Regions from separate parts of the Homo sapiens genome. Here regions 2, 3 and 4 are each linked to region 1. Evidence: fine-mapped expression QTL. A gene starts in region 1. Each other region holds a variant in brackets. All regions are shown on one strand. Distances are from middle to middle. Region 1 holds the start of SCRIB (scribble planar cell polarity protein). Region 2 holds the start of CCDC166 (coiled-coil domain containing 166). Region 3 overlaps IQANK1 (IQ motif and ankyrin repeat containing 1). Region 4 overlaps FAM83H (family with sequence similarity 83 member H).

Evidence for each region. PIP is the estimated chance that this variant, and not a neighbour inherited with it, causes the effect.
Region 2: its variant is the best candidate, but not a certain one, in a credible set for the expression of SCRIB in whole blood (INTERVAL, PIP 0.80).
Region 3: its variant is the best candidate, but not a certain one, in a credible set for the expression of SCRIB in whole blood (INTERVAL, PIP 0.83).
Region 4: its variant is the best candidate, but not a certain one, in a credible set for the expression of SCRIB in breast (GTEx, PIP 0.76).

What each region holds. Positions count from the first base shown.
Region 1 is chr8:143,813,141-143,818,140 of GRCh38, reverse strand. SCRIB (scribble planar cell polarity protein) reads left to right here and starts at 2,368. Exons shown (of 37, transcript NM_182706.5): 1 at 2,368-2,927; 2 at 4,023-4,140; 3 at 4,245-4,323; 4 at 4,415-4,504; 5 at 4,615-4,671; 6 at 4,767-4,830. The coding sequence starts at 2,769. PUF60 (poly(U) binding splicing factor 60) reads left to right here. Exons shown (of 12, transcript NM_078480.3): 8 at 66-279; 9 at 359-549; 10 at 675-810; 11 at 996-1,231; 12 at 1,322-1,797. The coding sequence ends at 1,621. RefSeq lists enhancers at 1,776-2,408, 2,409-3,041, 3,326-3,990.
Region 2 is chr8:143,705,546-143,710,728 of GRCh38, reverse strand. CCDC166 (coiled-coil domain containing 166) reads left to right here and starts at 2,620. Exons shown (of 2, transcript NM_001162914.1): 1 at 2,620-3,063; 2 at 3,160-4,035. The coding sequence starts at 2,620. The coding sequence ends at 4,035. It overlaps LOC101928160 (a long non-coding RNA gene), which reads right to left and starts at 2,678. Exons shown (of 6, transcript NR_134306.1): 1 at 2,593-2,678; 2 at 1,421-1,476. The variant G/A (reference allele first, on the strand shown) is at 2,358.
Region 3 is chr8:143,790,029-143,795,211 of GRCh38, reverse strand. IQANK1 (IQ motif and ankyrin repeat containing 1) reads right to left here. Exons shown (of 14, transcript NM_001381874.1): 12 at 5,148-5,183; 13 at 4,941-5,075; 14 at 4,567-4,862. The coding sequence ends at 4,604. SCRIB (scribble planar cell polarity protein) reads left to right here. Exons shown (of 37, transcript NM_182706.5): 27 at 100-174; 28 at 1,250-1,312; 29 at 2,129-2,236; 30 at 2,345-2,504; 31 at 2,577-2,727; 32 at 2,807-2,992; 33 at 3,079-3,221; 34 at 3,299-3,336; 35 at 3,472-3,546; 36 at 3,772-3,823; 37 at 3,904-4,287. The coding sequence ends at 4,049. Among named protein-coding and RNA genes, the nearest start is that of MIR937, 20 kb to the left of the region's middle. The variant C/T (reference allele first, on the strand shown) is at 2,214.
Region 4 is chr8:143,725,379-143,730,561 of GRCh38, reverse strand. FAM83H (family with sequence similarity 83 member H) reads left to right here. Exons shown (of 5, transcript NM_198488.5): 2 at 1-426; 3 at 1,239-1,403; 4 at 1,471-1,595; 5 at 1,839-5,183. The coding sequence ends at 4,641. Among named protein-coding and RNA genes, the nearest start is that of MIR4664, 5.2 kb to the left of the region's middle. The variant C/T (reference allele first, on the strand shown) is at 2,594.

The DNA.
Region 1 (5,000 bases):
CACGGAAGCCTTTTGTGGCCGGGCCTGGGTTGACCGGTCTTTCCATCTCACCGCCTCTTCCCCAGGTGGGCAGACCCAGCAACATAGGGCAGGCCCAGCCCATCATAGACCAGTTGGCTGAGGAGGCACGGGCCTTCAACCGCATCTACGTGGCCTCTGTGCACCAGGACCTCTCAGACGATGACATCAAGAGCGTGTTTGAGGCCTTTGGCAAGATCAAGTCCTGCACACTGGCCCGGGACCCCACAACTGGCAAGCACAAGGGCTACGGCTTCATTGGTGAGCTGGGGTGGCTGAGGCGGGATGGGGGCCACCTGAGGCTGGGGCTGGCCCTGCTCACTGCTGCTCCTGCCCACAGAGTACGAGAAGGCCCAGTCGTCCCAAGATGCTGTGTCTTCCATGAACCTCTTTGACCTGGGTGGCCAGTACTTGCGGGTGGGCAAGGCTGTCACACCGCCCATGCCCCTACTCACACCAGCCACGCCTGGAGGCCTCCCACCTGCCGCTGCTGTGGCAGCTGCTGCAGCCACTGCCAAGATCACAGCTCAGGTGAGGGCCCACACAGCTGTCGGCTTGAGGGTGGGCGGGCTGGCCCCTGATTCCTTGGAGACTGATTCAAGGTGGTCTTGAGTAGCCAGACCAGGGACTGAGCACGGTGACCTTTTGGGTTGCAGGAAGCAGTGGCCGGAGCAGCGGTGCTGGGTACCCTGGGCACACCTGGACTGGTGTCCCCAGCACTGACCCTGGCCCAGCCCCTGGGCACTTTGCCCCAGGCTGTCATGGCTGCCCAGGCACCTGGAGTCATCACAGGTGAGTCTTAAGTGGTACCAGATCCTCTCCTCTCCTGTCCTGGCATCTCTCGGCTCGCTGCCCTCAGCTGCCTGGCCCTGGTGGTCTGGGCACAACCCTCTGAGCCCAGGGCAGGCCAGCTCTGTGCCTTTCTGGGAAGGGGGGTGGTAGGGAGTGACTGATGGACCTGGTTGGTTTTCCTGCAGGTGTGACCCCAGCCCGTCCTCCTATCCCGGTCACCATCCCCTCGGTGGGAGTGGTGAACCCCATCCTGGCCAGCCCTCCAACGCTGGGTCTCCTGGAGCCCAAGAAGGAGAAGGAAGAAGAGGAGCTGTTTCCCGAGTCAGAGCGGCCAGAGATGCTGAGCGAGCAGGAGCACATGAGCATCTCGGGCAGTAGCGCCCGACACATGGTGATGCAGAAGCTGCTCCGCAAGCAGGAGGTAGGCAGAGGGGCAGGGTGGTGGCGGGGGAGAGGGTAGGGGGGCGGGGCCGCAGTGCTCAGCTGTCTTCCCCTCGGCCCTGCCCCACAGTCTACAGTGATGGTTCTGCGCAACATGGTGGACCCCAAGGACATCGATGATGACCTGGAAGGGGAGGTGACAGAGGAGTGTGGCAAGTTCGGGGCCGTGAACCGCGTCATCATCTACCAAGAGAAACAAGGCGAGGAGGAGGATGCAGAAATCATTGTCAAGATCTTTGTGGAGTTTTCCATAGCCTCTGAGACTCATAAGGCCATCCAGGCCCTCAATGGCCGCTGGTTTGCTGGCCGCAAGGTGGTGGCTGAAGTGTACGACCAGGAGCGTTTTGATAACAGTGACCTCTCTGCGTGACAGTGGTCCCTCTCCCCGGACTTGCACTTGTTCCTTGTTTCCTCTGGGTTTTATAGTGATACAGTGGTGTCCCCGGGGCCAGGCGCGCTCTGCCCAGCCCAGCCTACAGTGCGGATAAAGGTGCGGATGCTGCTGGCCCTGAACGTCCGTGTGTCTGCCGTCGGTCCTGTCACCGATCCTGGGCGTGTGTCCTTAGGGGGTCTAGGGCGAGGAGGCAGGGTTGGGGGGGTCTCTGGACCTGCTTCCTGTTGGCAGGAGGGGCCTGCCGTGGGCGAGACCTGGGCAGGGGGTTGGCGCCCCGGGCCCCGTCCCGCGGGTGGCGGCGGCTGGGTGGGCGGGGCTGCCTGGGGCGCCAGGCTCTCGCGCGCGGGCTCGCAGCCGTCCCCGCAGGGTGGTGCTGAGAGAAGGCTGGGCACCGGGACACCGCGACCCGCTGGACAGCGCGCGCTGCCAGTGCTTTTGTGCCGCAGAGCCGGCCGTCCAAGGCGGGCGGGCGGGCATGGTCGCTTCCCGGGAGGAGGCTGTGCGTTAAGATTCGTGGCCAAATGCCGCGGGGCCAGGGGCCGGGCTGAAGACCGGAGGGCGGAGGGCGCCGCCTCTCGTGGATTGTAGCTCCCAATATCCCGCGCGCGGGGCGGGCCCGGCTTCCCGGCACGCTTTGCGCGGTGCCGCTACGGGTCCTCAGAGGCGGCGGCGCGCGGGGCCTTCTGGGGGCCGCAGTCCGGGCGTGCTAGGCGGCGAGGGCCGGACTCGGCTTCCCGACGGGCTGCGCGGCGGCCGGGTGGGTGTCGGCGGGGCAGTCCGGCGGGCAGCGGCGGTTCCGGTGCGGCACAGCGGGCGGACGAGCGGGCGGGACGAGCTGAGCAGGACCAAGCGGGATGCGGAGCCGCCGCCGCCGCCGCTCCCCGCGCTTCCTAAGAGTCTGAGACCCGCCGGGCCGCGCCCCCTGCCCAGGCCCGCAGTCCGAGCGTTCCGAGCGCGGGCCGGGCCCAGCGCCGGCCGCGGCCGCGTCCCCGTCCAGTCTCGGGCGGCCCGCCCCCTGCCTGCGCCCCCTCCCCATGCGCGGCGCCCATGCGGACTGAGCCCCGCCCCCCGGCCCCGAGCCCGCCGAGCGCCGCCGCCGGAGCCCGCGCCGCCCACCCGCACCATGCTCAAGTGCATCCCGCTGTGGCGCTGCAACCGGCACGTGGAGTCGGTGGACAAGCGGCACTGTTCGCTGCAGGCCGTGCCGGAGGAGATCTACCGCTACAGCCGCAGCCTGGAGGAGCTGCTGCTCGACGCCAACCAGCTGCGCGAGCTGCCCAAGGTGAGCGGCCGCCCGCACCTGCCGCCCAAAGGCGCGCCCCCAGCCCGTGATTCCTCCGGCGGCAGAATCTGCCCGGGCGAGTCACCGCAGCCTCCAGCCGGCCCTGCTGGTTTGCACTGGCCAGGTCCCCACCCCAGCCAGCCCCACCCTTCTCTTCCAGCCGCCCTGGCTGGCGCAGGTGGCAGCGGTCATCAGGTGCTTGCCTGGGGATAGCGATTGTCACCGAGCCTGGAGGCGGAGCCTCAGAGTGAAACCCGTGGGGATTCAGGGAGGTGGATGGGGTTAGGGTGGAACTTGGATTCAGGTGGCTGATGAGTACTAGCTTCTTGGGCCGCTCTGGAGGTGGGTCCAGACCTCCTCTCCTTTTTTGCTGGGTGCAGGGGTGAGTGGGGGAGCCCTCTTGATGTACTCTTTGCTCTCGGATCTGTTCGCTGTCCCCCTTTCTTTACCCTTGCTTCTCGTGGTCAGGTGCTCTCCTAAGGCTGCTACAAGAAAGGAGGCTGGAGAAAGCAGATTAAAAAGTATTTCTTTTCTGGAGATGGGGTGCTGGGTGATCAGTACCTAGGGGTTGGGTGTCCCAAAGAATGTGACCCTGTTCTGGCCGTGGCAGTGACAGCTCGGTCCTCTGTGGCCACCTGCAGGCCTCGCGCGTAGCACTGTGCCTGTGGTACTGTGTTATTGTGGGGAGCGTTTACTGAGTTCTTGCTGCAGAACCAGGCCAGGCTTGTTGTCAGGATGCAGTAGCAGAGGCCAGTGTGGGCCCCTGGAGGGTGGCAGAAGTGGTTCAGGGGCTGGGTGGGCCCTGAGGTAAGACACAGGGTAGGGGATTGGGGCTTTGTCTGGTCGCCAGCAGGTGTCTTCTCAGAGTGGAGGCTGGTGTGAAGAGTAGAGGGAGGCAGCCACAGTGGGCGTGTGTACCGTGTGTTTCTTTCCTTTTTTTGCAAATGGGGTGTCGTGGTTAGACCCCAGGACCCGGTGTGACCTGGAGCAGACAGAGGCCTAGGGACTCTTGACTTGTGACACTCACGTGTCCAGGAGCTCTTCTCTGCTCTGCAGTGGTCTCTGCCACAGAGTCCGTGTCCTCCCTGCCCACAGCCTTTTTTCCGGCTGCTGAACTTGCGCAAGCTGGGCCTGAGCGACAACGAGATCCAGCGGTTGCCTCCCGAGGTGGCCAACTTCATGCAGCTGGTGGAGCTGGACGTGTCCCGGAACGGTGGGGAGCCTGGGCAGGGGCTGGGTGGGGTCTGGGGAGTGTCCGCTGGGGCTGCAGACGGCCTGCAGGCCATGGCATCTGTCCACTGTGACCCTCTGTGACAGATATCCCTGAGATCCCGGAGAGCATCAAGTTCTGCAAGGCTCTGGAGATCGCGGACTTCAGCGGGAACCCCCTCTCCAGGTGGGTGGCAGCCTGTGGTGGGGTCGGTAGGGGCTATGGGTCCCACAGCCCTGGACTGGTCATCCGAGGGCCTCTGCTTCCTCCCATCCAGGCTCCCTGATGGCTTCACTCAGCTGCGCAGCCTGGCTCACCTGGCCCTGAATGATGTGTCTCTGCAGGCACTGCCCGGGGACGTGGGCAAGTGAGTGCCTTCTCAGGTGGAACTAGGGTGGGGTGGGGGACCAGGATTGGCCCTGCCCCTGCTGCCACTGCTTTCCTTCCTCTTGCCCCAGCGCCTGGTCTCTCTTTCAGCCTCGCCAACCTGGTGACCCTGGAGCTCCGGGAGAACCTGCTCAAGTCCCTGCCAGCGTGAGTGTGACAGGCATTCTCCTAACAGCCAGGGCAGGGCCACAGCCCAGGGACCAGGGCTGCGTGGCCACACCTCCACCCTGCTTCCTCTGCAGGTCCCTGTCATTTCTGGTCAAGCTGGAACAGCTGGATCTGGGAGGCAACGATCTGGAAGTGCTGGTGCGTGGAGGCCTGACAGGGCAGAGACCGGAGGGCGGGCCACGGAAGCAAGGGCAAAGAAGGGGACAGCGAGCAGATCCGACAGCAAGGGGCACCTCGGGAGGGCAGGCGGGTGGGAGCTGGGTGTGGGGGCGTATAGTCTCTTGAGCACGGCGCAGCAGGAGGCTTTG
Region 2 (5,183 bases), 110 kb after region 1:
CAGTCCAGACCCTGGACGTGGCGTGGCCTGGGATGGTACAGGGTCTGAGACTGTGGGGCACCCGACTGGCCCATGTGAGCAGGCCTCTGCCTATTGCTGCCTCAGTTTCTCAATCTGTCAAATGGGGACAGTGACCCCACACAAGGCCTGAGGGTAGCAGGGTGGAGAGCACTGGGGTGTGGCCATGGCAAGGAACCAGAAGAGGCAACGCTGGGCATTAAGCACCCCTACACATGAGCCTGCCCCCCACCCCAGATGAGTCCCTGCTGCAGTTGAGCCCCTGCTGCAGGGATGCAGGGATGCAGGGTCATGTTTTTCTCATGATTCTATGTGGTCTTTTCCCAATTTTCTGTGACAGGAGAGGCACCATTTTCATATTAAAAGCCCATATATTAAAGCCAACATTCAGATGCAGTTTAGTTTATAAGTCAATGTCCTCTTACAATGTTAATGCTTTGTTTGGTAGTTTGTGTCCTCTTATTTTTACTTATAAAATACTTTTTTTTTTTTGAGACAGAGTCTCGCTCTGTCGCCCAGGCTGGAGTGCAGTGGCGCAACCTCGGCTCACTGCAAGCTCCGCCTCTCGGGTTCACGCCGTTCTCCTGCCTCAGCCTCCCAAGTAGCTGGGACTACAGGCACCTGCCACCACGCCTGGCTAATTTTTTGTATTTTTAGTAGAGACAGGGTTTCATCATGTTGGCCAGGATGGTCTGGATCTCCTGACGTGATCTGCCTGCCTCAGCCTCCCAAAGTGCTGGGATTACAGGTGTGAGCCACTGCGCCCAGCCTAAAATACATTTTTTTACAAGGAGTAAAATGCCTCAATCGTGTTCTTAATTTTAAAAGGCTCTGCTGCACCTTTCAGGCAGGTTGGCTGATCAGAGCAAGCCCAGCCATGTCCATGAGCCACCAGACGACCTCCACCACAAACCTCTGTGCAAATGTGGTTTTCTAAACTGTGTCCCTCACAAAGATCCTCAAATCTGCCCACATCCCAGCAAATGTGGACAAACTGGGCAGAAACTCAACTCTATGATGACAGAACACAAAATAGGGGTCGATTTAAGTTGTGTGTCAAAGGCTGCTGGACACACTGTTCCTGAGGCATCTAACAGAACGGGAGCTGGGGACCGCTGGTCTAGACGGAGGCAAATCTTACAGGACCAACAGGTGGTGATGCCTGCTGTGCAGTAATGACCAATACATCAAGACAGCAGAGTTTGCAGCAGAGAAAGTGTCATGATCCCCGGACACCGAGCAAGGAGATGGGAGGGACCTTCAAATCCATCTCCCTGAGTTCTGGGCTGGGGTTTTTAAAGGGATTGTGGCGGGTGACGGACTGTAAAATGGGGTCATCAATTGGCCGGGGAAAGGGGATGAAGTCCTCAGGATGTGTACCCTGCGTTCTTTGGCACATTACCTCCTCGTGGGGTGCTTCAGACCAGCTGGGTCAGTCGCTTCATGGGTGTGCAGGACCTGTCAAATAGAAAACCTCACATTTTACTATGTTTAAGTTGTTACCTATAGAGCAGTTATGGGGACCTCTCATCTTGTGACAGGGTCTGTGTGATTCTGGGGCCACAGGCACCAAACAGCTCTGAGGAAGGAGTTGGGAGGCAGGCTGACCTCACAATGAATGCTGAGCGAGCTGCAAGCTGGGTTTGTTTTCCTTTCTCGCCTCCCTTCTTCCCTGATTAATAAAGTCTATAGGAATGGTTTCAATAATGATGTTGTGTCCACAAAGTCAACAGAAAAGGAGAAAAAGCCAGCCCTTTTTGGATCCCTATGTCCTCCAGCCATCCGGGCACACGGGGAAGGGAAGCTACCCAGCTGCAGAGCCGCGGATGAGCTGAGCGGGTGCCGCACGCGCGCGCTTAGGACCTTCAGAGAGAAACGCTCTCTAGGCGCCCAGTGGACTCCATACTTCAGGAACCCCAATTCCCACGGGGGCCTCACCGAAGGAATCACGAAATGCTCAGGGAAAGCAAGGGTCCCTGAAGAGGCGAATGCTCCAGGGAAGCGCTCCCTCCTGACAACACAGAGATTTCACTCGGGAAACGGGGGGGAACGTGGTGAAGCTCCTCTTCAAGTGGGGGACAACCCGGGAGAAGGCCCGTTGCTGAACCGAAGGCGAAGGGCGCTTCTGGGGTCTGTGAGATTCAGAAGCACGTCCGGAGTCCGTCTGAAGCCCAGTTTTGTCAGCTCAGGCCCTATCTCTGGGGGCACATTCACAAGCAGTCACGGGCGACTCAAGATGAGAGAGTTGTGCGGAATGAAGGAGTCGGCCATCGCCAGAGTAACGGGGTGGGGGTGGGAGAGGACGAGTAAGTTCTGTCTCCATAGAGACCGTGCCCGCC[G/A]AGCAGCAACATTACTAATGTTAGGCGCACCCAGACGGACAGCGAAGGTCCAGCGGGAGCCCACGAGTGAAGGTTGGCAAAGCTGCCCTGACCCGCGACCCAAAGCCCCGATCTGCCTCCCCAAAAGCCTCGTGACCCCGAGGCGCGTCCCACCTCTGGGCCTGGCGCCTAGAATATTTAGGCCAGGTAAGAGGAAGGGCTAAATTGGGGAAGGGGCCGGGGTCGCTGCCCTCACCAGTCCTGGTGGTCCAGGCACCAACCCATGGCGCCCAAGAAAAAGCGCGGGCCGAGCGCAGGGAGCCAGCCAGGTGGTGCGGCGGCCGCGGGTGCCGAGCAGCCGCTATCGGAGCGCGCGCAGTACCTGCAACGCGAACACGCGCTGCTCTCGGAGCAGCTGGACACCTGCGAGGAGAGCGTTGACCAGGTGCTGCGAGAGAACGCCTTCCTGGACCGCGAGGCGCTGCGCCTGCGCGAGGAGAACCGGCTCTACGCCAGCTACGTGAGCGCGCGCGCCCAGCGCTGCGCCAAAGCCATCGTCCGGCTGGACGAGCAGAACCGCGTGGACCTAGCGCAGATCCACTGGCAGCGGGCGGAACTGGCCTCGCTCTACCACGGGCGCGAGGACGGGGTGCGCGCGCAGCTGTTGGAGATGGAGGCGCGCGCGGCACAGATGGCACAGCAGGTGCAAGAGCTGCAGCCCTACAAGGCCAGTGAGCCCGCCCGCGGCCGGGGTGAGGCGGGGCGGGGCTGGTGGCCGGGCCGGGGGCGGGGTGGGGGTGAGCTGACGGCGCCCCCGCCGCAGGTGCTGCAGCTGGAGCAGCTGGCCCGGATCCGGGCGCTGGAGCGCGAGCTGCTGCATATGCGCGTGGAGCACACGCAGCTGCTCCACCGCGTGAAGCGGCGCTTCCTGGAGGACAAGGCGGCCTTCGAGCGCGAGGCGCGTCAGCGCGTGCAGTCACTGGCGCGGCGCGCGGAGCGGGAGGCGGTGCGCGCGCTTGTGGCGCACACGCAGGCCATCAAAGCGGACAACGGACGCCTGCGGCAGGAGCTGCTGCTGCTGCTCCGCCGGACCCAGCTGCTGCACCACACGCGGCGCCAGCTGCTGGAACAGCGCGAGCAACTGCACCGCGAGCACGAGGACACGCGGGACCTGGCGCGTGTGCACGGCTGGCTGCGCAGGGGCCCCGGAGGCCCGCCGCTCTGGGAGCGGCCGGCCTTCTCCCAGCCCACCTCGCGCCCCGGGTCATTAGCCGCCCCCATAAGCCCGTCGCGCGCGGCCTCCCAGACCCCGTCTGTGGTACCGTCGCGCGCGGCCCCCCGGGCCTCGTCCGTGGTCCCGTCGCGCGAGGCTTCCCGGGTCCCCTCGTTGGTGCTATCGAGCATGGACTCCAGGGTCCCATCGCTGGCCACTTCAAAGGTGGGATCCCGGATGCCATCCCTGACCGCTTCGCGCGCAGGCTCCCGGGCCCTGTCGCTGGTGCAGTCACTCGAGGGCTCTGGGATCTCTTCGGGGTCCTCACCGAGGGTGTCCTCACAGGACACTCTCCGCTCCACGAAGTCTGGCCCCAAGCTTCTCTCTGGCCTGTCCCGGGATCGGGATCCGGCTCTTCTCCCCCCACAGTCGGAGGACAGCGTGAACGCTGAAGCTGCGGCAGAAGCCTCCCCGGGTAGAGCCTGAACCTGCAGAGAGTGAGGCCCAGGAGGCCCTAGTGTGGGCGAGTCAGGCGCGCAGGGCGCTTACGGGGATAATGCAATGGTTAATAAAGGCGTGGCCCCCAGGCGGCTCTGACACCCGCGTGCATGCTCTAGCATTTCCGGCCGGCCACTCATTCGTGCGTCCAATTTCCAAGCTGCAAGAGAGCTCAGCGCCTGCTTTCCCTGAATGCCCTTTGGGACCCCGCATCCCTGCCCTCAGTGGGGCCCTACCGCGAGCCGGCAGGCTCAGAGCAAGCCCGGGCACTGGCGGGCGCGGACGTGCGACGAAGCGGCAGCTGGCAGCTGGGCCGCTACGGTGAGGCCCGGGGGAAAAGCGTAGACTTTGTTCTCCGCGCCAAGGGGATGTCTTATGTTCAACCTACTGGGAGTTTTTCAGTAATTTTAAAACTTTGATATACTTTCCAACTTAGAGAAAGTTGCAAAAATAGCACAGGGACCGCCATGGACCCTTTATCCGGATGCCCGGCCGCTGACGCTGCCCGTGAATTTGGTCCGTGTGTATCGCTGTGCACGAGCGTTGCTTCGGAACCGTTTGAGATGCGGTTGGAGACGCTGGCCCCGGAGCCCCGAAGTACTTTCGTGTGTATTTCCTGAACAGAGGGATGTTCTCCTACGATGCTTTAGTGCAGTGATCAGAACCAGGACATTTACTGTGGAGGAATATTATCCCCATCGTCGCTCACATCACAACTTTGTCACCCGTCCCAAGTGTTTCTGTGGCTGTCCCCATCTTCCAGGGTCACGTGTTGCATTTAGTTGTCGCGTCTGGATGTGTACAGGCGGTTATTAAAATGCCCCTCCGTGGAGGGTCAGCTCTCCGGGCTGCGCGGGACGCCCGCCCAGCTCGCGCTCAACCTTCCTCGTGGCCGCGACGCGACCAGCGAGTGCCCAGGGCTAGAGCGGCGCCGCGCTTCCGGTTCGGGAGGCGTGGATTCCGGGGGTGCGTGGAGGCGGCTGCGGCTCTGCGGGTTGGTGGTGGCCTCCTTTGCCCCTTGTCCCGCGGGCCGGCTCCTCCCTCTGAGCAGGTCTGTGGCGCTCAGCCCGGGCTTCCCTCTCCCCGGGGCCCTGAGTTCCCTTGTTGGGGTCTCAAGTGGGTGCCCCCAGTCCCCC
Region 3 (5,183 bases), 23 kb after region 1:
TGCTGGGTAGTAACCCCCAGGACCCCCTCTCCTGCCCTGTGCTGGCCGGGTGCTGCCACGGAGCTACCCCTGCTAGTGCTGTGTTCACTCTGCCCCCAGGGTCGGGGTCTGCAGCCCCTGAAGCTGGACTACCGCGCCCTGGCCGCCGTGCCCAGCGCTGGCAGCGTGCAGAGGGTGAGTGCCCAGTGTGCAGTGCCCCCCACCTCCGTCCTGTTGTCCTGTTCATCGGCCACCCCAGGACAAACGCCAGGGCCATCCGGGAGGGAACCTTTGGGCGGGGGCTGGGGTGGGAGGAGGCCACGTCTGACCTGCAGGCTACCCCAGCCTGGCACATGCTTATCACCCTCATTCTCAACCCAAGCCATGTTGGTGCTGCCCCACCCACACACCCTGAGCTGCGGATGGGTGACACAGGCCGAGGCATCCCTCTAGTGGCGGTGCGAGAGCTTCACCTGCTGCTGCTGGGGCTGCCCAGCCCCAGAGGGTGCGAGTGGGGGCAGAGGCTCCTGGGGGATTGGGCAGGCACATGTCCCCAAGGGGAGGACAGGCTGGAGCAGCTGGAGGGGCGGGTGCTGGGGACAGGCAGGAGGATGTGCAGGCCCATCCCTCCCCTTAGAGATACAAATAACCCTCCCAGAGGGTGCGCCCCACCAGCCCCACCGAACGTGAGTGCCGAGGGGTGGCTCCTGCAGGCCCTTGCCCAAGCGGTGGGGTGGTGGTGAGGGGCCAGGCAGGGCCTGGATCTGAGGCAGCGCATTCGGGGGCTCTTGGGTACTGACCCTGCCTCCTCTGGCCATGGGCAGCGCCAAGAGGGAGGCTTCCGGGAGGCCCTTCATCCTCATGAACAACAGCACAGTCATGGGGGCAGCAGTCAGGGCGCCACTGAGCCCTGAGGGCTGCACACCACAAGTAGGGGCTCCCCACCATCACCTCTGTCTCTGGCCCCTCCCCCGAGCCCTCCCTGCTCTCTTCTCCGGCTGTCCTGTCTGCTCCCATCTCTCCTGCAAAGCTCCAGCCAGCACACTGCCATGGAGACAGCAGCTGCCCAGCCCAGGCCCCCGCATCCTGTGGGAACGGGGACGAGCCCCTCCGTGCTGACCGAGTGTCTGGGGCATCCCCTGGGCTATAGTCAGGTTGGGGAACTGAAGAGCTGCTGTGGCTTTTAGGCAAGCCCCAGGGCCCCCAGTCCCTCCTGGTCGGGGGCCACAGCCCTGCCCATCCTCACCCCACCCACTGCCTACTCCTCCAGGTACCGTCTGGAGCAGCTGGAGGGAAGATGGCTGAATCTCCCTGCTCCCCTAGTGGCCAGCAGGTGAGTGTCCCAAGTTAACGGGTGTGCCCCATGGTGGGTGGAGGGCAGGGCAGATGGCCGCTGTGCACAGGGCCCCTCCTCCAGGGATGGGGGGTCAGGGGCCATCGTGGGGTGCTGTTGACTCCGGTTTTCCCTCTGCTACCATGGGGCCTCCTGTGTGAGGAAGGCCAGGGACGCTTTCCTGGCCAGAGCTGCCTGGCGATGGGGTGGGGGGCCTGAGTGTGCTGTTCCTGGAGGGGCTCAAGCTCCTGAGACCCCAGTCAGTGTCTCAGGCCCAACACCTCCCAGGGCCCACCTTATCCCTGCCTGCCTTTTGTCTGGGGGTCCTTGCCCCCCCACTGTTGGCACCTCCCAACACACTGCCACGTGGGGGTGGAGGTGGCAGCCCCCATGAGACCCAGCCCCAGCTCAGCCCCTCACAGGCAAGATGTCAGCCCCACCCAGGTTGGTCGGTCTCTCTCTCTCTGTCTCTCCCACCCCCCTCTCTACCCCCGTCCCTTGCCTTAAACCCCTGATCCTGCTCTCCTCTGCCCCCGCCGCCCCCACCTGCCTTTTTTAGACAAAACCAGGGGTGATCCAGCCATTGGCTCAGGCCTGGCCAAGGGGCTCCCCAGCCCCCAGGGGCAGAGGTTGTCCCCACTCCGTGAGTGCTCTGTCCCGTGGGTGGGGGTGGCAGAGCCTCCTTCCCCAGCAGGATGGTGGGTGGGGATCAAAGGCAGGCGGGGGGACAGGCGGGGGGACAGCCGGTGGTGAGTTGCACACAGCTGCAGCCCCGACAGCTGCCCCAGCATAGCTCACAAGAGCCCCACCCCCCAGCCGCCCTCCCCGCCTTCTCCGGATGAGCTGCCCGCCAATGTGAAGCAGGCCTACAGGGCCTTCGCGGCCGTGCCCACTTCTCACC[C/T]GCCTGAGGATGCCCCTGCCCAGGTGTGTGGGGGCAGCACGCCTCCCTGCTGCGCGTGGTTGGGGTGGGTGCCCGGGGGCCCCAGTATCTCGGAGGAATGCCAGCCAAACCTCAAGGTCCGCTCCCCCCAGCCCCCCACGCCTGGGCCTGCAGCCTCCCCGGAGCAGCTGTCCTTCCGGGAGCGGCAGAAGTACTTTGAGCTGGAGGTGCGCGTGCCCCAGGCCGAGGGCCCCCCTAAGCGCGTGTCCCTGGTGGGTGCTGACGACCTGCGGAAGATGCAGGAGGAGGAAGGTGAGGGGCACGGAAGTGGGGTGGGGGTTGGGTCTCGGCTGGTCTGGCCTGACCCACCCTGCCCTCCGGCAGCCAGAAAACTACAGCAGAAGAGAGCGCAGATGCTGCGGGAGGCGGCAGAGGCTGGGGCCGAAGCGAGGCTCGCCCTGGACGGGGAGACGCTGGGCGAGGAGGAACAGGAGGATGAGCAGCCACCCTGGGCCAGCCCGAGCCCCACCTCAAGGTGAGCACCCGCCCACCAGACGCCCCCTACTCACCCCACGTGCCCCTGCCCCCCACAGCACGTCCTGTCCCTTCCCCAGGCAGAGCCCGGCGTCCCCCCCACCCCTGGGAGGTGGCGCCCCGGTGCGGACGGCCAAAGCTGAACGGCGCCACCAGGAGCGGCTGCGCGTGCAGAGTCCGGAGCCACCGGCACCCGAGCGTGCCCTGTCCCCTGCCGAGCTCCGGGCCCTGGAGGCCGAGAAGCGTGCGCTGTGGAGGGCAGCCAGGTGAGCCCCTGTGTGGGGTCGCCACCCCGCCCTGCTGCCTGTCCCTGCTCCTGCCCCAAGTCACCCCTGCCCGCTGTTCTCTGCAGGATGAAGTCATTGGAACAGGACGCTCTCCGAGCACAGATGGTCCTCAGCAGGTCCCAGGAAGGCCGGGGCACGCGGGGGCCCCTGGAGCGACTGGCCGAGGCCCCTTCCCCTGCGCCCACCCCGTCGCCCACCCCTGTGGAAGGTCTGTGGGTCAGGGCAGGTCGGGGGGGTCAGCCTGCCGCATGGGCTGCTTCCAATGCCCGCTTCTTGTCCCCCCAGACCTCGGCCCCCAGACCAGCACCTCCCCGGGACGCCTGGTGAGGAGCCGGTGGCTATGCCTTCCCTTCACCCCCGAGGCATGGGGGTGGGGTCTGGCCTGCCCCCACCCCCGTGGCCCTCATCCCCCCCTTTCCTCTCACTCTCTGCCTCTCCCCTCACGCTGTCCTTTCAAGCCCTTGTCTGGAAAGAAGTTTGACTACAGGGCCTTTGCGGCCCTGCCTTCTTCCAGACCTGTCTATGACATCCAGGTACCTGGCCTCCAGGCCTCTGCATGCCTGCCACCCTGTCCGTGCCTGCCACCGCCCCCATCCGCTCCCGCAGGGCCTCCCCACGCTCTGCCGTGGCCCTGCCTCTTCACCCCCCCTCCCCCTTCAGCCGGGCTCTGTGGGCCTCAGGGCTGGGAGCCCACCCGTCCACCTGGGTGGTTTGGGGCAGGGCTGGCACCGGCCTGACCAACACTCTCCCCATCACAGTCACCGGACTTTGCTGAGGAGTTGAGGTCCCTGGAACCATCTCCCAGCCCTGGTGAGTTGGGGCCGGGCTGGGGTGAGCTCCCAGGAGCCCAGCTGCCCTCAGCTCACTGCCCACCTGTCCCTGCCCTCCAGGCCCGCAGGAGGAGGATGGAGAAGTGGCTCTGGTGCTTCTGGGCAGGCCCTCACCCGGCGCTGTGGGCCCTGAAGATGTGGCACTGTGCAGCAGCCGCCGCCCCGTAAGGCCTGGGCGCCGTGGCCTGGGCCCTGTGCCCTCCTAGAGGAGCAGGCACCTCCCCCAGACTTGGGGTGGGGGCCCTGCCAGCTCCAGCACCACCCTTGCCCCAAGTCTTTTAACCTGGGTGTTAGCATTTTAAAGAGACCCCACAGGAGTTCTGGCCTGTGACTAACTAACTGCCCCACCCCAGCCGAGACCTCGGCGAGACTGTAACTAGTGATGTTTGTACAACCAAAGACTCTATTTTGTGGTTTAAGGAGAATAAAGTTGACTACATTTTACCTCCCGTCTGCCTGTCCATCCCCCACCCACTAGCACAGACCCTTCCTGCCCTCCGAGGCGAGGCTGAGCTCCGAGGGCTGCACCCTCACCGTCCCTCCCACGTCTCCCGCTGCGCCTCACTGCGCACGGGTCGGCCGGGCAGGCTGCCCATCCCCAGCAGGGCCTCCCCCAAGTGCCTGCAGACCCATGTCCGCCGGCCGGGGCCCGGGACTGCCGGAGTCCTGGACTGGCACACGCCACCGCTGCCCCCACGCACGCAGCACAGATGCAGCACCGCGCCCCGGGGCACACGTTTTATTGGGACTGGGGCCAGCACTAGAGGCCTGTGCCTGGCAGCTGCACGCGCACTGGGAGCAGCACCTGCAGCTGCTCAGCTGGCGGCCACTGGACCTTGGTGACGAAAAAGAGGCGGAAGTGCTCCAGCCGCTGCTCCTGGAACTGCGTGGGGCTATACTCAGGCCCGTCCGTGGGCCGCAGCAGCGACAGGTACCTCTCCTGCACCGCCTCCAGCTGCCGCTGCACGACTGGGAACAGGTCTTCCTCTCGCAGGTCGAACACCAGCGGCTTCCCATACCTGCCCCATGAGGCTGGTGAGGCCAGGGTGGGGCTAGGGAGGTGGGGTGGGGTGTACCTGTCACCCTGCCTGCCTCACCGCAGAGCCCCCAGCAGAGCCAGCCACATCGTCTCCGGCCTCAGGGGCTCCGGGTTCACCGTGTCCACATAGTTGGTATCCTGGTAGCGCAGGAAGGTGGCCGCCTGGCCCAAAGGGTCAATAACAAGAGGCCACCTGGGGACACCCATCAGGTCACTGCTGTCTGTCCAAACCCCAAATCGCCCACGTCTGGCCCGGAGAACTGACCGGCCATCGGCACGGATGCGGTTGCCTACATCTTTC
Region 4 (5,183 bases), 88 kb after region 1:
TCCTCGCAGGGGGACAACCCACTGGCACCCGGGTACCTGCCGCCTCACTACAAAGAGTACTACCGCCTGGCGGTGGATGCACTGGCCGAGGGTGGCTCGGAGGCCTACAGCCGCTTCCTCGCTACCGAGGGGGCACCAGACTTCCTGTGCCCTGAAGAGCTGGAACATGTGAGCCGACACCTTCGGCCTCCGCAGTATGTTACCCGAGAGCCACCTGAAGGCAGCCTTCTCGACGTGGACATGGATGGCTCCTCGGGTACATACTGGCCAGTGAACTCAGACCAGGCCGTGCCTGAGCTTGATTTGGGCTGGCCTCTGACCTTCGGCTTCCAGGGCACCGAGGTGACCACCTTGGTGCAGCCACCGCCCCCCGACAGCCCCAGTATCAAGGATGAGGCCCGCAGGATGATCCGTTCCGCCCAGCAGGTGCGCCATCTTGGGCTTGAGGGTAGTGGGGGAGGGGCCTGGGCTAGAGGCACGGGGGTGGAGGAGATGCATGAGCATGATCAGCTTGAGGGGTGAGCCTGAGCTCCAGCTGGAGTGGGGGTCCCTGGCAAAGATCTTCAGGGCTGCCAGGTCTCGGTCATCAGGGGCTGCAGGCTCTGCACAGGTCTGCTTGCCTGTGGTCATGGCCAGTGCCCAGAAACTCGGGGGCTCTGGGGATGGGTGGGCACCCCACCAGCCTGGGTTCATTGTTCAGATAATTACCTCTCATCCTGCCCGGTGGCCCTTGGCCAGCTGAGGGCTTCTAACCATCACCAAACAGCTAGCAGACGGCGGAAGGTGCTGTTAAACCATAGCGACTGAGGCATGAGGTCCAGACGCTAAAGGCTTGTGACTTTCTCCCCTGCCCAGGGCAACAACCCCGTCCCAGGGCAGAACTGGAGCCTGGCACTTGGCCCTGACAGCTGCCCTGGAATGGGGGCAGCTCAGCCGTCTGTAGGGTGGAGGGGATTGAGGGGCCCTTGCCGTGCCCCAACCTGGCCCACCCTCATCCAGGGTTCTCTGCCCTGCACCTGCCTCGGTTTCCCCCTTATGGCCAGCCGTTCCACACCTCTTCTGTTTGGTCCCTTCTTCCTGCCCATCTTCCCAGATGTGGCGCCAACTCCCTAGGATGGACTAGCTTGTTTCACAGTGGTCGTGGGTGATCCAGACACCTCCCGGGTGTGGAGGGGAGGCTGGACAATGGTGTGGGGACAGCAGGGGCCTCTCCTCTCCGTCCTGACCCGCCCCTGCAGGTGGTGGCCGTGGTGATGGACATGTTCACTGATGTGGACCTGCTCAGCGAAGTGCTGGAGGCCGCGGCCCGTCGGGTCCCAGTCTACATCCTGCTGGATGAGATGAACGCGCAGCACTTCCTGGACATGGCCGACAAGTGCCGTGTCAACCTGCAGCACGTGGATGTGAGTTCCCGGGAGTGGGAGATTGGGGAGGACCCGTGGGAGAGATCTGACTCCCCTCCCTCCCCAGTTCCTGCGCGTACGGACTGTGGCGGGCCCCACCTACTACTGCCGCACTGGGAAGTCCTTCAAGGGCCACGTCAAGGAGAAGTTCCTGCTGGTGGACTGTGCCGTGGTGATGAGTGGGAGCTACAGGTGCGCCCGCGGGGCTCCCTCACCCCCTTCTCTGGGGCCTCCTCCTGTAACCCCAGCACCCCCTTTCCACACCAGGGCCCTCCTCGCCAGGAGCCCTTGTCCTGTAGACCCCTGCACAGCCTAGCCGGGCCCAGGTCCTTGCAGACCTCACATCCCTGCGTCCTCCGCGCCCCACCCGCTGCCCACGGGGCTGCAGTGCCCTCGCTCCAGCTCGGTTTGACTCTGGCCCTGACCCCCCCACAGCTTCATGTGGTCCTTTGAGAAGATCCACCGCAGCCTGGCGCACGTGTTCCAAGGAGAGCTGGTCTCCAGCTTCGACGAGGAGTTCCGCATCCTCTTCGCGCAGTCCGAGCCGCTTGTGCCCTCGGCCGCGGCCCTGGCCCGCATGGACGCCTATGCCCTGGCTCCGTATGCCGGGGCCGGGCCTCTCGTGGGCGTCCCTGGGGTCGGGGCGCCAACCCCCTTCTCCTTCCCTAAACGAGCGCACCTCCTGTTCCCGCCACCCCGGGAAGAGGGCCTGGGCTTCCCCTCCTTCCTCGACCCGGACCGCCACTTCCTGTCGGCCTTCCGCCGGGAGGAGCCGCCGCGGATGCCGGGGGGCGCGCTGGAACCGCACGCGGGGCTGCGGCCGCTCTCGCGGCGCCTGGAGGCCGAGGCCGGGCCGGCTGGGGAGCTCGCGGGCGCGCGGGGCTTCTTCCAGGCGCGGCACCTGGAGATGGACGCCTTCAAGCGGCACAGCTTCGCGACCGAGGGCGCGGGCGCCGTGGAGAACTTCGCGGCCGCGCGGCAGGTGTCGCGGCAGACGTTCCTCAGCCACGGCGACGACTTCCGCTTCCAGACCAGCCACTTCCACCGTGACCAGCTCTACCAGCAGCAGTACCAGTGGGACCCGCAGCTCACGCCGGCGCGCCCGCAAGGCCTGTTCGAGAAGCTTCGCGGGGGCCGCGCGGGTTTCGCGGACCCGGATGACTTCACCCTGGGCGCCGGGCCCCGCTTCC[C/T]GGAGCTCGGACCCGACGGGCACCAGCGGCTGGACTACGTGCCGTCCAGCGCGTCCCGCGAGGTGCGCCACGGCTCGGACCCCGCCTTCGCGCCCGGACCCCGCGGCCTGGAGCCCAGCGGAGCCCCGCGCCCCAACCTGACCCAGCGCTTCCCATGCCAGGCCGCGGCGAGGCCGGGCCCAGACCCCGCTCCCGAGGCGGAGCCGGAGCGCAGGGGCGGGCCCGAGGGGCGGGCAGGGCTGCGGCGCTGGCGTTTGGCCTCCTACTTGAGCGGCTGCCACGGCGAGGATGGGGGCGACGACGGCCTACCGGCGCCCATGGAAGCGGAGGCTTACGAAGACGACGTGCTGGCTCCCGGGGGCCGGGCACCTGCCGGCGACCTGCTCCCCTCGGCCTTCCGCGTCCCAGCAGCCTTCCCCACCAAGGTCCCGGTGCCAGGCCCGGGCAGCGGCGGCAACGGCCCAGAGCGCGAGGGCCCGGAGGAGCCTGGCCTGGCCAAGCAGGACTCATTCCGCTCGCGCCTGAACCCCCTGGTCCAGCGCAGCTCCAGGCTGCGCTCCTCGCTCATCTTCAGCACGTCACAGGCCGAGGGCGCGGCCGGGGCTGCGGCGGCCACTGAGAAGGTGCAGCTGCTGCACAAGGAGCAGACGGTCAGCGAGACGCTGGGGCCCGGCGGAGAGGCCGTGCGCTCCGCGGCTTCCACCAAGGTGGCGGAGCTGCTGGAGAAGTACAAGGGCCCAGCCCGTGATCCCGGCGGCGGCGCGGGCGCCATCACCGTTGCCAGCCACAGCAAGGCCGTCGTGTCCCAGGCGTGGCGGGAAGAGGTGGCGGCCCCAGGTGCCGTGGGGGGCGAGCGCCGCAGCCTCGAGAGCTGCCTGCTGGACCTGCGCGACTCCTTTGCACAGCAGCTGCACCAGGAGGCGGAGCGGCAGCCGGGAGCCGCGTCGCTCACCGCGGCGCAGCTGCTCGACACACTGGGCCGGAGCGGCTCCGACCGCCTGCCTTCCCGCTTCCTCTCTGCCCAGAGCCACTCAACGTCCCCGCAAGGGCTGGACAGCCCTCTGCCGCTGGAAGGGTCCGGAGCGCACCAGGTGCTCCATAATGAGTCAAAAGGGAGCCCCACCTCGGCTTACCCTGAGCGGAAGGGGAGCCCCACGCCTGGGTTTTCCACTCGAAGAGGAAGTCCAACTACAGGATTTATCGAGCAGAAGGGGAGCCCCACCTCAGCCTACCCCGAGCGCAGGGGTAGTCCGGTGCCCCCCGTGCCGGAGCGCAGGAGCAGTCCGGTGCCCCCCGTGCCGGAGCGCAGGGGCAGCCTCACCCTTACCATCTCCGGGGAGTCCCCGAAGGCCGGGCCCGCGGAGGAGGGGCCGAGCGGCCCCATGGAAGTCCTGCGCAAAGGCTCCTTGCGTCTTAGGCAGCTGCTGAGCCCCAAGGGCGAGCGGCGCATGGAGGATGAGGGTGGCTTCCCAGTGCCGCAGGAGAACGGCCAACCCGAGAGCCCGCGGCGTCTGTCACTGGGCCAGGGTGACAGCACGGAGGCTGCCACAGAAGAGCGGGGTCCGCGGGCGCGCCTGTCCTCAGCCACGGCCAACGCCTTGTACAGCAGCAACCTTCGGGATGACACGAAGGCCATTCTGGAGCAGATCAGTGCCCACGGCCAGAAGCACCGTGCGGTCCCTGCCCCGAGCCCCGGCCCGACCCACAACAGCCCCGAGCTAGGCCGTCCACCGGCTGCTGGCGTCCTGGCCCCAGATATGTCCGACAAGGACAAGTGTTCAGCCATCTTCCGCTCGGACAGCTTGGGGACCCAGGGCCGGCTGAGCCGCACGCTGCCAGCCAGCGCGGAGGAGCGCGATCGGCTGCTGCGCCGCATGGAGAGCATGCGCAAGGAGAAGCGCGTGTACAGCCGCTTCGAGGTCTTCTGCAAGAAAGAGGAGGCCAGCAGCCCTGGGGCAGGGGAAGGCCCCGCGGAGGAGGGCACCAGGGACAGCAAGGTGGGCAAGTTCGTGCCCAAGATCCTGGGCACGTTCAAAAGCAAGAAGTGAGTCTTCTGGCCTGGCAACCCAGGCCAGGGTGCCCGCATCGCTGCCCCGGTCATCCAGAAGCCCCGCGGAACAGAGAGCCCTGCTCATCTGCTTGAGCAGCGGCTGTCAGGCCACGGCCGCTTGGGGCTTGGCTGAGTGCGCCAGACCTCGGCTCCACTGGAGGCTCACCTGGCAGCTGCCGTCTCTGCCCCCTGGCCTCCCCAACGCTGGGGCTGCACCCCTCGCCACCAGTGCCTTTCTCCCCTCAGCACCTTCATCTCTGCACCGTCAGCCTTGCGTGGCGCAGCGTCTGGCTCCGCCATCTCTTTGTGCCTCAGTCCCCCCCGCCCCCTTTATTTTTTTGAGACCTAGGGCTGGAGTGCAGTTGAGCGGTCTGGGCTCACTGCAACCTCTGCCTCCCGGGTTCCAGCGATTCTCCTGCCTCAGCCTCCTGAGTAGCTGGGATTACAGATGTATGCTACCACGCCCAGGTAGTTTTTGTATTTTTAGTAGAGACAGGGTTTCACTATGTTGGCCAGGCTGGTCTCCAACTCCTGGCCTCA